Regions from separate parts of the Homo sapiens genome. Here region 2 is linked to region 1. Evidence: fine-mapped expression QTL. A gene starts in region 1. The other region holds a variant in brackets. All regions are shown on one strand. Distances are from middle to middle.

Region 1 (8,336 bases):
TGGGCAATGGAAAAGATGGTGATATCTTAAACTGGGATAGGAAATATTTTAAGACAATGAGGGGTTCCATTCCGAACAAAGTACCTATGAGACATCCAGATAAAGGTGTCCTCTTGGCAGTTAGTCATTTGGGCCTGGAGCTCTAAAAAGTAGTCTGGCTGGAGATACAAATTTTTCAAACCATTTGTAGATGAGAAACTGGGGCCACAAGAATGGATAGGGGCGGGGTATGGTGGCTTACGCCTGTAATCCCAGCACTTTGGGAGGCCAAGGTGGGTGGATCACCTAAGGTCAGGAGACCAGCCTGGCCAACATGGCGAAACCCCATCTCTACTAAAAATGCAAAAATTAGCCTGGCATGGTGGCGTGTGCCTGTGGTCCCAGCTACTCGGGAGGCTGAGGCAGGAGAATCGCTTGAACCTGGGAGGTGGAGGTTGCAGCGGGCTGAGATCACACCACTGCACTCCAGCCTGGGTGACAGAGTGAGACTCTGTCTCAAAAGAAAGGAAAGAGAAAGAAAAAGGAAGAAAGAAAGAAAGGAAGGAAGGAAGGAAGGAAAGAAAGAAAGAAAGGATAGTTTTGCCTAAGAAGAATGTGTAGGGTGGGTGAGAAGAAGGCCTAGAACAGGTCCTTGAAGCATGCTTAATATTAAAGGGGCTGGCAGAGGAGCTGCAAAGGAAACCGATTAAAAAACAGAGCAGTAGGCCAGGCGCAGTGGCTCATGCCTGTAATCCCAGCATTTTGGAAGGCTGAGGCAGGCAGATCACTTGAGGTCAAGAGTTCGAGACCAGCCCAGCCAACATGGCGAAACTCCGTCTCTACTGAAAATACAAAAATTAGCTGGGTGTGGTGGCGCACACCTGTAAATTCAGCTACTCAGGGGGCTGAGGCAGGAGAATCGCTTGAACCCAGGAGACGGAGGCTGCAGTGAGCCGAGATAGCGCCATTGCACTCCAGCCTGGGTGACAGAGCGAGACTCTCTCAAACAAACAAACAAACAAAAACAGAGCAGTAGGAGGAAAGCTAGGAGATGGTGTCATTAGAGAAGCCAAAAGAAGAGGATGATTTGACCAAAGAGTAAACATGGTGAGGGTGGGGTGGGGGTGGTGGGGTGCAAGGTCAGGTAAGGAGGCCATAAAACCGCACGCAACAGGGACAAAATGAAGGGTACAGACAAGGAGGACTGAAAGACTTCAGGAGAGTACACTTACTCTGGGCTATGTTTCAGTGGGACCTACATTTTGCTACTGATATCACGTCTAGCTTTTTGAATAGTTCCCTAAATGCCAGCCTCCAAATCTGACTGAATATGAAATAGACCAAGAAGCAGGCTTAGGAGAAAAAATAATTTTCCAATTCCATTTTTGGAATAATGCTGTTGTAACCCAACTCCACTCACTAGCCAAACATATTGGATAACGGATGACAGCAGGATGCCCAAGTGGTTGATGAATAGCGAGTTTAAGTAGGTCAATTAGGAGCAGAGAAGGAAGTAAAAACACTCCAAAATACCCCATCAAAGTACTTCAAACAATGTGGCTTTGCTGTGGATGAGTAGAAACCACAACAGATGTATTAGCCTGGTCAACAACAATCAGAAAGGAGATGCTTTTTTTTTTTTGAGACACAGTCTTGCACTGTCACCCAGGCTGGAGTGCAGTGGCCCGATCTCAGCTCACCGCAAGCTCCGCCTCCCAGATTCACGCCATTCTCCTGCCTCAGCCTCCCCAGCAGCTGGGGACCACAGGTGCCCACCACCACGCCCGGCCAATTTTTTGTATTTTTAGTAGAGATGGGGTTTCACTGTGTTAGCCAGGATGGTCTCGATCTCCTGACCTTGTGATCTGCCCGCCTTGGCCTCCTAAAGTGCTGGGATTACAGGCGTGAGCCAACGCGCCTGGCCTTTTTTTTTTTTTGAGACGGAGTTTTGCTCTTGTTGCCCAGGCTGGAGAACAATGGCGCAATCTCAGCTCACCGCAACCTCCACCTCCCAGGTTCAAGCGATTCTCCTGCCTCAGCCTCCCAAGTAGCTGGGATTACAGGCATGTGCCACCACGCCCAGCTAATTTGGTATTTTTAGTAGAGACAGGTTTTCTCCATGTTGGTCAGGCTGGTCTGGAACGCCTGACCTCAGGTGATCCGTCTGCATTGGCCTCCCAAAGTGTTGGGATTACAGGCGTGAGCCACCTCACCCAGCCAGGAAATGCTCTTTTTTAGGTTAAAAAAAGAAAAAAGGCTTTAGGCAAATTCTAAGCCTATAAGCCAGAGTGCCAAGCATCAGAGGCTCTTTAAATGCTGACTCTAGATCCATATTTTCACAAAGTATCATCTTTATGTATCCTCTGTGGTAAGGTCCTATATTTAGGTTTACAAAACTCTGCTGCACACATACAAGACTTGGGTTGGCAGCATGTTGTGTGAAAAAGAGCTGAGTCCGTAAATGACCACACAAGTTTAGCATGAGCAAACAGTGTCATGTGACTGCTAAAAAATGTAAATACAGGCTGGGCACAGTGGCTCACACCTGTAATCCCAGCACTTTGGGAGGCCGAGATGGGTGGATCATGAGATCAGGAGTTTGAGACCAGCCTGGCCAACATGGTGAAACCCCGTCTCTACTAAAAATACAAAAATTAACCGGGCGTGGTGGTGCGCACCTGCAATCCCAGCTACTCGGGACGTTGAGACAGGAGAATTGCTTGAACCCCGGAGGCGGAGGACGCAGTCAGCCGAGATTGCGCCATTACACTCCAGCTCTGGGCAACAGAGCAAGACTCAGTCTCGGAAAAAAAAAATGTAAATACAACTGTAGTCCACTTTAATAGACGTGTCCAGATAATAATAGTCCAACTGCATTCTGAATTATTCAGAATAAATCTGGAGTACTGTGTTCAGTTGAAAGGGTCACATTTTAAGAGTGATAGCTCTTACTTATCCCTTTCTTTCCATTCCCAATCTTAGATACTCTCATCTCATATCTAGCGTGGTAGATTGTTTCCAAAGATGACCCAAAAACTCCTCCCATGGCACACGCCCTTTGTGGTGTTACTTTGCCACTCTTCCCATTAAGAAGTAGACTATTCCTCCTGGTGAATCCAGGGTGGCTCTGAGTCTTACTCTGACCAACAAGAAGTGATGCTCACAGGCCTAGGCCTAAGGGACCTCACAGCTTCTATTTTTGCGCACTTTGTTGTCAACCACCAAGTCAAGAAGCTGGAGCTAAACTACTGACTCATAAGAGGCCAGTGTGAAAAGAGAGGTCATGCAGAGAAGAAATGAAGGACCCAGCCAATAGCTACCACTGACACCCTAGACATGTGAGTGAAGCCATCTTGAATCTTTCAGCCCTAGCCAAGCCAGTGCTGGTGATGTTCTTCTATATCTGTGTGACTGTCCAATATGGCAGTCACTAGCCACATACAGGGCTACTGAATCCTTGGAATGTGGCTAGGGCATCTGAAGAACTTCATTTTTAATTTCATTTTAACTTAAACTTTAAATAGCTAATGGCTACTTTCCAGGCCAGTGTAAAAGTCTGTTACCACTCAAGTCATCCAGCATAATCCCGCTAAAGCAACTGGGCACAGGGCAGCCAAAAATCATCTTAGCACCTGCCCTTTAGGGGCTATAAGTATATATACAGTGACAAGACAAGGCGGTGGAGAAGGATGCAGTGTAGCTCTGTCAGCCTTGTTTTTAAAAATGAAAGAAAAAATATCTCCCTCTAACATCACCCAAAGGGAAATTTCCAAGCAATGGAATATATCATGATTCTCACATCTAGCCTAGAGAGCTCCTGACTAGAAAAGTAACTTTCAAAAACTGTTTCCTCATCTGCTGAAAAACAAAATTTAAACAGTCCCCTGGTTCACTCTTTTTGGGGGGAGAAGGGGAGCAGAAAGGAAATATGAGAGAGTCTACATTGCATGCTAGACACGGCCACATTTATAATACATCGAATTCTCTTAATCCTTTTTTTTCAAACTAAGCGAACATAAGTTCAGAGAGGTAATTTGCCAAGGACCTATGACTAGTTAGTGCTAAAGATAAAATTCAAAACCAGGCCTCTGAATTTCCGACCCCCTACTCTTCCCACCACAGCGGAATGCCTCACCTATCAAAAATAAAAATTTCTAATGGCCTATTGAGCTTTTCCATGATCTCTTCACCTAAGTAACTATTTCCAATTAATGCCTTCTTAGCAGACTGATCCCATTTTTCCTCCCTTCACTTTCCTATACTTCTTTTTCCTCTAATTTTACCCATCCTTCAAACTCCATTTTAAACTTTTTTTTCCTTCCATAGAACTTTCCTTATCTTATCACAATTGCCCTCTCTGAATTTTTATATTACTTATAATAGGCACCATATAATATAGCGTTCTCTGTTACACTGCTTTTCCCTTAAATAGACCTTAATCTCCTTGAAGACAGAAGCTATCCTATGTCTTTGGGGAGTGGCAATCTTTCCAAATTTCTTTAGCTTTCCCCCAGAGCCGTGAGTAGATACTTCTGGAATGGACGAATGATCTAAACTCAATAGACAAATACTTGTTGATTCATTAAAGACAGCCCCAAACTCTGCTGTTTCACCCTTTGCTTCATAATCTACAGCACACCAATTAATCCAAAAGGGCTGAGGGGCTAATCCACACTGCAGCCCCGCCACGTAACGCTACCCGCCCGCGCTGTCACGCCACGCCCAGCCTGCTGGTTGCAGATTTGGCGTAGCCCAACCCTGGGACGGCCGATTGGGCGTGGTGTGCGTGGCTGAAGGCGTGGCTGAGAAGAGAAACCTACGCTTTGGGTCAGACTCGGTAGCTTCCGGTAATCTTCGACAATTTCCGGCAACGGTTTTCTCTCTCGTCGACCAACCTCGGGTATTTCCGACTCCCTTCGGGCTTTTCCGTCTGGTTCCCGCTCGGCTTTCTCCACTTCGGGTATTCCCGTGTCCCGCTCGGAAGCACTCGGCAATCGCTCGGCCTCCCCCATCCCCCGGTAACGGTCGCTGGTGAGTTTAAATGAGCAGGGGCTGGCCGGGCCGGAGCCGCTACAGGGGGGGCCTGAGGCACTGCAGAAAGTGGGCCTGAGCCTCGAGGATGACGGTGCTGCAGGAACCCGTCCAGGTAATGATAACCTTCTTCTCTGGGGCTTGGCTGGCAGCCTCGGTCGGGAAGCAGCAGCGTAGGGCCACTCCGCGGCCTGGTGCGGCCTAGGCCCGGCTGCTTCTCCCGCCTCCCCTGCTGCCGTGTCCTGCCTATCTTTAGTCAGTTCGGAGGCCTTGCCCACAGCCTAAGCCGTGTTACCTCTGGCCCTACATTACTTCACCCTTAGCGTGAGCGGCTTCGGCGAAAATAACCGCCTTTCCCGTCCGAGCCAACGTCCGGCCAGCCTTTCCTGTCAGTCCAGGGGCCTGGCTTGACTGGGGGTGGGAGATGAGGGGCCGAAAATGCACCCCAAGCGCTCTCTTGCCTAAAAGATGATCGAGAAGCACATTTGATCGGAGCTTGTGTGATCTTCGTGACGGTAGGGCAAGTTTACGGAGGTTTTTTTTATTTTGTCTTGTATGAGAGGGTGGAGGGAGCGTAGGATCGGTCTTTTTAATACTAATTTCTATTTTGGTAACAGACTTCCTATCCCACGTTTCCTTTCTCGGTGAATTTCCCACCGGACAATGATGGTTTGAGAAGACAACTCCAAGCCTCAGTGCTGAGGCGCAAGCACCAATACCAGGGGAGGAGGTGGAAAGGGCACATTTGGGTTGTTTTCATCCTCTCTGATGGGGATCAGGAGCATTTTGTTGTGCATGTTTATAAGGCATTCAGGAAATGAAACACAAATAATGGTGTTTCTGTCCATTTCACTGCCTTTACACCAGGGTATGCTTTGACGCACAGTGCTGTGTTGCATTAAAGGAACCCTATTGGATTTTAAGTGTGTGATGCGGTGCCAAGTCATTTTCCCCCCTGACATCTGGAGAAACTGTATCTTTTGTGCCTTGGTAATGGACCAGGTCTGGGAGACTTCATCCCACTATATGATCTTTAACTTGATCAGAATTGACCTCTATCAACTGCTGTCATTGAGTCATGGACTTTATTTTGAAGTTATAAAGCAAACTGATTTTTAGAAATTCCTTCATATTGCCCTTAAAAGGCTTGAGGTATCAAACAGTAAATATTTTAATATATCACTACTTTCATATTTATTTCATTTTTCTAAACAGCATGAAATACTCATTTCTTCTAGTTTGGTTTTTTTCTCCAGCTGTTTACATATAGCAGCTATTAGTGTTTGAATTAATAAAACGTAAGATTATATCTTATGAAATTTACCTGTCTGTAAGTTGTATTAGTTTTTCTAGAGCTATTTCCATCCAAATTCTTTTTACCAGTATAGTTTCTTTTAAGATTTTTTTTTATTCTGGCTGTAGATGAGGTAATTATATATATATAATTTTTTAAGGCCTAACATGAACTTAAATAGATAAGCAGATTACTCAAGTTATTTAATTTCTGTTGCATATTCTTATAATTTTGTTTTAATAGTTAATGATTTTTTTTTTTTTGCCTTCTCTGGCCCCAGAAGTCTTCTAAAGTGATAAACTAGTTGCATTGATAGACTATAACCACCATTTAATAATAATTTCAGACTTTATAAAAGCATGGAAGGCCGGGCGTGGTGGCTTACACCTGAAATCCCAGCACTTTGGGAGGCTGAGGCGGGTGGATCACCTGAGGTCAGGAGTTCGAGACCTGCCTGGCCAACACAGTGAAACCCTGTCTCTACTAAAAATATAAAAAATTAGCCAGGCGTGGTGGTGGGCGCCTGTAATCCCAGCTACTTGGGAGGCTGAGGCAGGAGAATTGCCTGAACCCAGGAGATGGAGTTTGCAGTGAGCCGACATGGTCCCGCTGCACTCCAGCCTGGGCGACAGAGTGAGACTCCATCTCAAAATAAATAAATAAATAAAAAATAAAAGCATGGAAAAGAAAAGGAATATGTAGCCTGTTTCTAGATAGTACCCATCAGGTTTCCTGTTTGTCCTTAAAGTACTCTGAGCAGTAATACACTTTGATATTTTTAAGGCTTAAATGTCAAATTTGCTTCTTTTTCATAGCAGCATTGTCCATTAGATTTTTGAGATAGTGGTAGAAAGTTTTAGGATATGACTAGGTGAAAATTTTGGTTGTATAGTATAAGAAGCCATTCAAGAATGGATTTGGAACAGTGAGAAGAACAAGCAACTTTGGCTACAATGATAAAGATCAATGATCAGGGATAGTGCTGCAAATGGGAAAGAATTAGGAAGAGAATAAAAATAGGACAGATATATAAGATACTGTCTTTATTAAAAAAAAAACTATGATGACAGATTGCGTGTATTTGGAAAGCAATGAGAGTAAGTTGGAAAATTGTTCTTTCTTGGAATGCCTCAGAGTTGATGGTATTACTAGGCATAGGAAAAAGTTCACAGAAAATATGAAGAACTGTTTTCTGCATTTTTTTTTCTTTAAAGTTTTAATGTAGAATGGCCAGTCCGATATACCATATATGCCTAAATTAAAACTCCGTCTCAAATTACTACCTCTCAGAAGAGTATTACTTTATATTTGAGTCCTTACAAAAGTCTCACATATGAGGCAGAATTTCTGTCAGTTCTTTTATTTTTAATGGTAACTATTTGGAAAGACACACTAGCCTAAGTGACTTCAGTGAGAGCTTTTTGAATATTTATAAAAGTCACCTGGTGAAATTGGTTTTTAAAAAAGAAGCAAAGAGATTTTATATAGATTTAGCAATTATTCCTAGGGGTAAGACTTCACAGAAGTGTTGGATGAAGTTGTAAATAAGCCTTTCGAAAATTAATTTAATAAGCAATATAGCAATTGGGTACTATATACATGATACTGTTTTAGAGATCATTAGATGGTGAAGGAGTACTCTTGGCTGGGGATAAAATGTTCAGGGACAGCATCTAACATGGATTCAAAGAGTAACATATTTTGGCTACTCAATGAGAAATTTAGATTTAATGTGCATTGGTAATGAATAACCATTATATGAGCAGAAGAGTTTTTGAGCAGAGGAATTATGTAATAAAAGCACCACTTTGGGAATATTTATCTGGTGCTGTTGGAAAGGGAGGAAGAGACAAGAGTTAGACATACAGACTAGTAGAATAATCCAACTGCATGATCATGTAGACCAGGGCTGCTTAATCTGAGCACTATTGACATTTGGGGCAAGCTAATACTTTGTTGGAAGCTGTGCATTGTAGAATGTTTTGTAGCATCCCTGGCTTCTAACCACTGGATGACCCCTCCATTTGTGACA
Region 2 (8,336 bases), 41 kb after region 1:
TAATAGGAACTCCAAGAATACTTAAAAGGGACTGCAAAATAGTTTGTGTATGGATTGTTTTAAACATTACAGTTATGAAGAAGGCAAAACAAAATGGTAGTTAGCATGCCAGGTGAAGTAGGCCAAAACTAGAAGAGCCATAATAACCATAATAACCAGAGCAAGTTAAGACAGTGGGCAGGCACATGATTTTAGTGCCCAGATAAGATTGCTCTCTCATCCTCTTCTGCCTCTGTTCTCCTCTTACCTTATTACAAGACATTCCCAGAAAAGTCACGCATGTAGGTCTGCATGCAGTGTCAACTGAAAATATCAAACCAGGTATTGAGTGCAGTGTACATAGTTCTTTGATAAATAAGGAAAAGCCAGAGTTGACTTTTGTCCCTTGGATGAATGTAGTGATCCCAATTTGGAAAAGGCGGAGGAAGGCTTATGAAGTTTTATTTTGAAGTGGTGGTACATTAGATGAAAATATTCAGTAGAAAGTTAGTCATAGAGGAAAAAATGTGACCTGCTGATAGAAATAATAATTGAAACTATTAAAATGACCAGGCTCTCCTAGGGAAAGAAAGAGTAGCTAAGGAGAACAGAGTAAACCTAATTTAAAAATAGTAGAAGGATAAAGGGCCAGCAAATGAAGTGGCAGGACAAATAATGTAATGTTTTGGAAGTAACACAAAGTTTCAAAAAGTAGGGCATGATCAGTGATGTTGAATGCAGGAAAGGCTAAAATAAGGTTTTAATATCTGATGAGACAGTGATTATTAGTGATTATTTATAATATGCAGTTTGAGGATTGTGTACAGGACATCAGGGTAACAGTAAGTTTTGAAGAAAATTCTCTGGTAGCCAAAGGGGAAAAACAGTGCACTGATACAATAGTCATAGATCATTTAAAGAAGCTAGATGGTGGAAATGAATAGAAATAAGGGAATAAATTAGAGAAGACTGAAGAGCCAAGCAAAGATTTTTTTTTCTCCAAGGGAACAGAAACCAATTAATGAAGATTAGAAAAACTAAGCAATATTAACTCTAAAGAACAATATCCTTAGGTTTTGGAAAGTAATCAGATGGTTGTTTTTTTAAAATCTACTCCTCTGAACTCCTTTAGAACTGTTACCAAGTGCCAAAGGAGTATAAAATCTTATCGTATTATTATTTTTTTCTGTGTATAATGAGATAAATCATAAATCTTGAGAATTTAGCTGTCTTAAAATTTTTTAGTACTTAACCCCAAATAGAGAAGGTATGTAATAAATGGAGGATGGTCACAATGAGATGAAAAGAATAGCTTCTGGGGATTTTTAGTCTTTGAAACAAAAAGCGAAAGATGAAAAGACATTATAGAGGTAAAAATACTGTGAGATTAAAACAGGGAAATAGACTGATGTTCATACTAATACAACAATAATTAACAATATGATATAAATAGTTTATCTTTAAGGTGACAGTATATTATGGCTGCTTGTATTGAGAAAATGTAGATGGGAGCGTTGTGTTGTCTTTTATCATTTACAGTGCAGCCCATAATTCACAAACCTTAGACTTTTCGTGTTTTACAGTCTGTTGCCAGAATCGGCCAAACTGGAACAAAGTCTGTCTTCTCACAGAGTGGAAATAGCCGAGAGGTAACTCCAATTCTTGCACAAACACAAAGTTCTGGTCCACAAACAAGGTATTTATCATTGTAATTATTCAACTTTTCTTGGCATAAAACTTGATTCTTTACATTTCTTTAATTTAGGCAGATAGTGACTCTCGTGGATTCTAGAATAACTACTGTAAATTTTGAAGATGTAAAATTTGAAACCTCTAACTTACAACACTAATGTAATTTTGAGTTGAGTTTTGTAATGCACAGAAGACAATAGTTAACTAAAGCAGCATTTTAGTTTACTCTGATTGCCTCATGGATTTGTAATTTTCTTCTTATGCACATGACCCTTTCTATAGTTTAGGTACAGATAGGTTTCATACTCCCCTTCCCCACATTATGCATGTCTATAAACAGATTATAAAAATAACAGACAAATAAACTTCAAATAATGAATCTATTTCCACACAGAAATGGTGTTAGATAGGATTTTCTTTTCCTCTTCAAGGACTCAATAGATTATAGCTAACATTTTAAAAGGAAGATACAATTTTCTTTCTCCTTTCTAAAACTGTGAACATGTACCTAAATTTTAAAACAGACATACACACAGGTGTGCATATACCTCCTTGACTATCTAAAAGACCTCTATGTTCCTGTAATGCTCCCAGAATGGTAAGTCTAATCCTCTTGAGTGCCAGCTTGCAGTGATTGCCTGAGGCTCTGTTGTGAGAAGGAACTTGAGACCTCCTGCAAAGCAACATTATATGTAAAAATAATTTCCGATTTGTACATTTCACTTTAGAGTCAAACAAATAGACTAACACTAATAAACATCAGCTCTTTTTTTTATGGAGATGGAGTTTCACTCTTGTTGCCCAAGCTGGAGTGCAGTGGTGTGATCTCGGCCCACCACAACCTCCGCCTCCCGGGTTCAAGTGATTCTCCTGCCTCAGCTTCCTGAGTAGCTGGGATTATAGGCATGTGTCACCACACCCAGCTAATTTTGTATTTTTAGTAAAGACAGGGTTTCTCCATGTTGGTCAGGCTGGTCTCGAACTCCCAACCTCAGGTGATCCGCCTGCCTCAGCCTCCCAAAGTGCTGGGATTACAGGCATGAGCCACCGTGCCTGGCCAACATTCACTCTTAATAATTTTGTGTTCTTTGTATTGTTGATTCCATTTTATCTCCTTAATTGCCTATATTAGTTTTCTAGGGCTGCCATAACAAAGTACCACAACTTAGTGTCTTAAAACAACAGATACTTATTCTCTTACAGTTGTAAAGCCATAAGTCCAAAATCAAGGTGTTGGCAGGGTTGTTCCCCTTCCAAAATCTTTAGAGGAGGATTTTTCCTTGCCTCCTCCAGCTTCTGATAACCCCAGGTGTTCTTTAGCATGTGACAGTATAACTCAGTATCTTCCTCTGTCTTCACATGGTCATCTTCCATGTGTGTTTCTGTATCTAAATTTCCCTCTTGTAAAGACAACAGTTATATTGGATTAGGGTCAACCCAGATATCCTCAGCTTAACTCAATGACATCTGCAAAAACCAAATTTCTGAATAAAATCACATTGACATGTACTGGGGCTTAGGGCTTCAACATATCTTTTGGGGAGGTACAATTCAATATTGCCTTATTAGCAATTGCTCTTTATTTTGTCTTTTTAAAGGTTGTTTGGAGTTTGTAGTAAACATTTTAACTTATCAAGGTTTGCCTTCAAGTAATAGACAATTTCATGTATAGCACAGAACCTTACAATAGTATACTTTCGTGCTCCTCTCTTAGTCTTTATGGGAGGGATGGCTGTAATATATTTAATTTCTATATATGTTATAAACCCCACAGTGCATTATTGTGGTTGTGGTTTCTGCCTTAAACAGTCAGTTGTCTTTTTATAGAGTTTTGTTTTTGTTTTTGTTTTTGTTTTAGACGGAGTTTCGCTCTGTTACCCAGGCTGTAGTGCAATGGTGCAATCTCGGCTCACTGCAACCTCCACCTCCCCAGTTCAAGCAATGCTACTGCCTCAGCCTCCCATGTAGCTGGGATTACAGGCATGTGCCACCACGCCCGGCTAATTTTTGTATTTTTAGTAGAGACAGGGTTTCACGATGTTGGCCAGGCTAGCGTCAAACTCCTGACCTCAAATGATCCACCCGCCTCAGCCTCCCAAAGTGCTGGGATTACAGGCATGAGCTACCATGCCCAGCTGAAATTTTTTTAAATGAGAAAAAGAAGTCTATTTTATATTTACACACATAACTACAATTTCTGGTGCCCTTTCCTTCTATAGATCCAGATTGCGATCTGATATCATTTTCCTCCACCTTGAAGGACTTCTTTTTAACATTTCTTTTTTTTTTTTTTTTTTTT[TA/A]AGACAGAGTCTCACTCTGTCACCAGGCTGAAGTGCAGTGGCACGATCTCGGCTCACTGCAACTTCTGCCACCTGGGTTAAAGCGATTCTCCTGCCTCAGCCTCCCGAGTAGCTGGGACTACAGGTGTGCACCACCACACCCAGCTAATTTTTGTATTTTTAGTAGAAACGGGGTTTCACCATGTTGGCCAGGATGGTCCCGATCTCTTGACCTTGTGATCCTCCTGCCTTGGCCTCCCGAAGTGCTGGGATTACAGTCATGAGCCCCACCGCACCTGGCCTTTTTATCATTTCTTATAGTACGAGTCAGCTGGTAATGAATTTTTTCAGCTTTTGTGGATCAGAAAAAAAGTTCTTATTTCATCTTTATTTTTGAACAATATTTTTACTAGGCAAGAATTTCTTTCTTTTTCTTTTTTTTTTTTTTTTTTTGAGACAGAGTCTTGCTTGTTGCCTGGGCTGGAGTGCAATGGCACAATCTTGGCTCCCTGCAACCTCTGCTTCCCGAGTTCAAGCAATTCTCCTGCCACGGCCTCCCGAGTAGCTGGGATTACAGGCATGTGCTATCATGCTCAGCTAATTTTTGCATTTTTAGTAGAGATTGGCTTTCACCATGTTGGCCAGGCTAGTCTTGAATTCCTGACCTCAGGTGATCGCCCATCTTGGCCTCCCAAAGTGCTGAGATTACAGGCATGAGCCACTACGCCTGGCCAAGAATTTCTAATTGACAATTTTTTTAGGGATGTTGCTTTACTGGTTTTTTGGCTTATATTGTTTCTGACAAGAAATCTGCTGTCAATCTCATTTTTGTTCCTCTATATGTAGTAATATGTCTTTTCTCTGTTTCAAGGTTTTGTTTTTAATTGCTGATTTTAAGCAATTCGATTATGATGTGCTCTAGTGTAGCTTTGTTGTTTCTCGGCCTTTGGATTTATTGAGCTTCTTGGATCTGTGGGTTTATAGTTTTCATAATAGTTGGCTAAATTGGGGGCATTATTTCTTCAAATATTATGTCCATGTCTTACCCTCTCCCTCTGGGACTCCAGGTACTTGTATATTAGATTGCTTGAAGTTGCCCCACAGCTCACTAATTCTTCATTTTTGTTTCCAATCTTTCTCCTCTCCGTGTTTCATTTTGGATAGTGTTTATTGCTATGTCTTCAAATTAATGTTTCTTCAGCAGTGTCAGACCTGTTATTAACCACACCCAGTGTTGTTGGGTTTTTTGTTTTGTTTTGTTTTTTTATTGCAGACATTTGTCTTTCATCTCTAGATTGATTTGGTTTTCTTTCTTTCTTTTTTTTTTTTTTTGAGATAGAGTCTCGCTCTGTTGCCCAGGCTGGAGTGCAGTGGCACAATCTGGCTCACTGCACCCTCCGCCCCTCCTGGGTTCAAGCGATTCTCCTGCCTCAGCCTCCTGAGTAGCTGGGATTACAGGCATGTGCCACTGCGCCCTGCTAATTTTTGTATTTTTAGTAGAGATGGGGTTTCACCATGTTGGTCAGGCTGATCTCAAACTCCTGACTCGTGATCCGCCCACCTTGGCCTCCGAAAGTGCTGGGATTACAGGTGTGAGCCACCGCGCCCAGCCTTTTTTTTTTTTTTTTTTTTGAGACAGGGTCTCACTGTCACCCAGGCTGGAGTGCAGTGATGCTACTATGGCTCACTGTAGCCTCAAACTCCTTGGCTCAAGCGATTCTCTTGCGTTAGCCTCCTGAGTAGCTGGGACTACAGGCACATGCCACCACATGTGGCTGATTATTTTTATTTTTTATTTTTTTGTAGAGACAAGGACAAGGTCTCTATGAGACAAGGTCTTGCTATGTTGTCCAGGCAGATCTTGACCTCCGGGCCTGAAGCAGTCCTGGCTTGGCCTCCCAAAGTGCTGGGCCGACAGGCATGAGCCACCTCATCCAGTCTCTTCTATGTTTTTGAACGTATAGGATGTATTTGTATTTTTTTAATGTTTTTGCCTACTAAGTCTGTTACTTTGTTATTTCTAAGTGTTTCTTATATTACTTTTCCTCTTCATTGTAGATTATATTTTCCTGCTGTTTTCTATGCCTAGTGTTTTTTTTTTTGTTTGTTTGTTTGTTTGTTTGTTTGTTTTTGAGACGGAGTTTCGCTCTGTCGCCCAGGCTGGAGTGCAGTGGCGCGATCTCGACTCACTGCAAGCTCCGCCTCCCGGGTTCACGCCATTCTCCTGCCTCAGCCTCCCGTGTAGCTGGGACTACAGGCGCGCGCCACCATGCCCAGCTAATTTTTGTATTTTTAGTAGAGACGGGGTTTCACCGTGTTAGCCAGGATGGTCTCGATCTCCTGACCTCGTGATCCGCCCGTCTCGGCCTCCCAAAGTGCTGGGATTACAGGCGTGAGCCACCGCGCCCGGCTGCCTAGTGTTTTTTAATTGGATGTCAGTTATTATAAATTTTACTTTTTTTCTTTGAGACAGGGTCTTTTACTCTGATGCCCAGGCTAGAGTACAGTGGTGTGATTATAGCTCAGTGCAGCCTCAAACTCCTGGGCTCAAGAAGTCCTCCCACTTCAGGCTCCTGGGTAGCTGGAACTATAGGCACGTGCCACATATGGCTAATTTTTTTTTAGTTTTGCAGAGATGGGGTCTTGCTGTGTTGCTCAGGCTGTTCTCAAACTCCTGGCCTCAAGCAATCCTCCCACCTCACCCACCCGAGTTGTTGGGATTACAGGTGTGAGCCACTGTGCCTGGCTATAAATTTTACATTGTTGATTACTGGATATTTTTGCATTCCTTTAGGTATTTTAAAGTTTTATTCTGAGATGCAGTAAAGTTGCTTGGAAACAGCTTGATCCCTTCAGGTCTTACCTTTTAAATTTTGTCCAGACAAAAGTAGCCTTAGTCTGGACTAATCTTGTCCCACCATTGAGGAAGTACCCTTTGAGTACTCTCCTCAAAAACCTGTTTAGTATGAGGTTTCTTCACTCTGCCTATTGAAAGTATGAGCTATTCCCAGCTTGGAGTGAGATCCAGTAATTATTCTGTCTGCTTCTTTTCAGTAATACTTTCCCCAGCTTTGGGTAGTTTCTTCACTATAGTACTATAATGTAATTCTGATGCTAACTACCCAAACTTAGCACAGACACCACAGGTTAAGATCACAGTCCCCAACAAGAACTGTCTGAACTGCCCAGTTGTAGGTTCTGGGTTCCCCAGGCCACCCACATTTCTGACCAACTGGCTACAAATTTAAGGATTCCTACTACCCTCTTACATTCAGTAATTTGCTAGAGCACCTCACAGAGTCCAGGAAAGTGCTATACTTAATGATTACAGTTTTATTGTAGATGACATAATTAGGAGATCCATAGGATTAGATATGGGAGGGTCCTGATACAGAGCTTTCATGTCTTCTTTCTGGGCTCACCCTCCCAATGCATCAGTATGTTTACAAACCAGGAATTTGAGCCAAGTTTTGGTGTTCAAAATTTTTATTAGGGTTTTTAAATTATGTAGGTGTGATTGATGGAATCATTGGCCACATGATTGAACTCAATTTCCTTCCCAGAGGAGCTCAGGCTGGTGTTGCTGGCTCAAAGCCCCAGCCCTCTAATCACATGGTTGACTTTTTTTTTTTTGAGACAGAGTTTCGCTGTTGTCGCCCAGGCTGCAATGCAATGGCACGATCTTGGCTCACTGCAACCTCCACCTCCCGGGTTCAAGTGATTACACTTGAACCCGCGAGTGGCTGGGATTACAGGCACCCGCCATCATGCCCAGCTAATTTTTGTATTTTTAGTAGAGATGGGGTTCCACCATGTTGGCCAGGATGATCTCGATCTCTTGACCTCGTGATCCGCCTGCCTTGGCCTGCCAAAGTGCTGGGATTACATGTGTGAGCCACCATGCCCGGCCACATGGTTGACCTTTACAGCACAGCCAGCACCCATCCAGAAAGTATCTAGGAGTTACTTCATTAGCATAAATTCAGGCACGGTCCCAGGAGCTCATAATGAATAACAAAGACATCCCTGTCACTTGAGGAATTCCAAGGACTTAGTAGATCTCAGGAGCCTGGGACGTGGACCAGACAAATTCTTTATTATATAACACTCAAACACCTACACTGATCAATTTTCAACTGAAGACTCTAGGGAAGCCCTCTGCAGATCTTTGTAGGTCTCCTCTTTGTAGCTCTCTTCTCTCTGGTGCTCTGCCTTGCAAATTCTGGCTGCTTTGGCTTTCTCAAATTCTCAACATTTTCTTTTCAACACAGTGGGACCACTGAGCTCTATTTTGCATTCTTTTTTCCTGCAAGGTGGCCCTAGAACTGTCCTCGGAAATGTTTTGCCTATTGTCCAGTGTCTGAAAACCATTGTTCCATATATTTG

Which allele goes with the higher level. Positions count from the first base shown, and alleles are read on the strand shown. Sizes are in standard deviations (SD) of each study's normalised expression.
In carriers of allele A in region 2, the expression in non-classical monocytes of the gene that starts at base 4,976 in region 1 tends to be lower than with TA alone (large effect, 1.1 SD a copy in Schmiedel 2018).

Evidence for each region.
Region 2: its variant is fine-mapped to the expression of CDC27 in non-classical monocytes (Schmiedel 2018, PIP 0.95).

Annotation. Positions count from the first base shown.
Region 1 is chr17:47,185,935-47,194,270 of GRCh38, reverse strand. It overlaps CDC27 (cell division cycle 27), which reads left to right and starts at 4,976. Exons shown (of 19, transcript NM_001256.6): 1 at 4,976-5,125. The coding sequence starts at 5,099. It also overlaps a transcript of MYL4 not described here. RefSeq lists enhancers at 5,052-5,241, 4,772-5,368 and a silencer at 5,402-5,451.
Region 2 is chr17:47,145,145-47,153,480 of GRCh38, reverse strand. CDC27 (cell division cycle 27) reads left to right here. Exons shown (of 19, transcript NM_001256.6): 9 at 1,563-1,675. Among named protein-coding and RNA genes, the nearest start is that of CDC27, 40 kb to the left of the region's middle. The variant TA/A (reference allele first, on the strand shown) is at 3,971.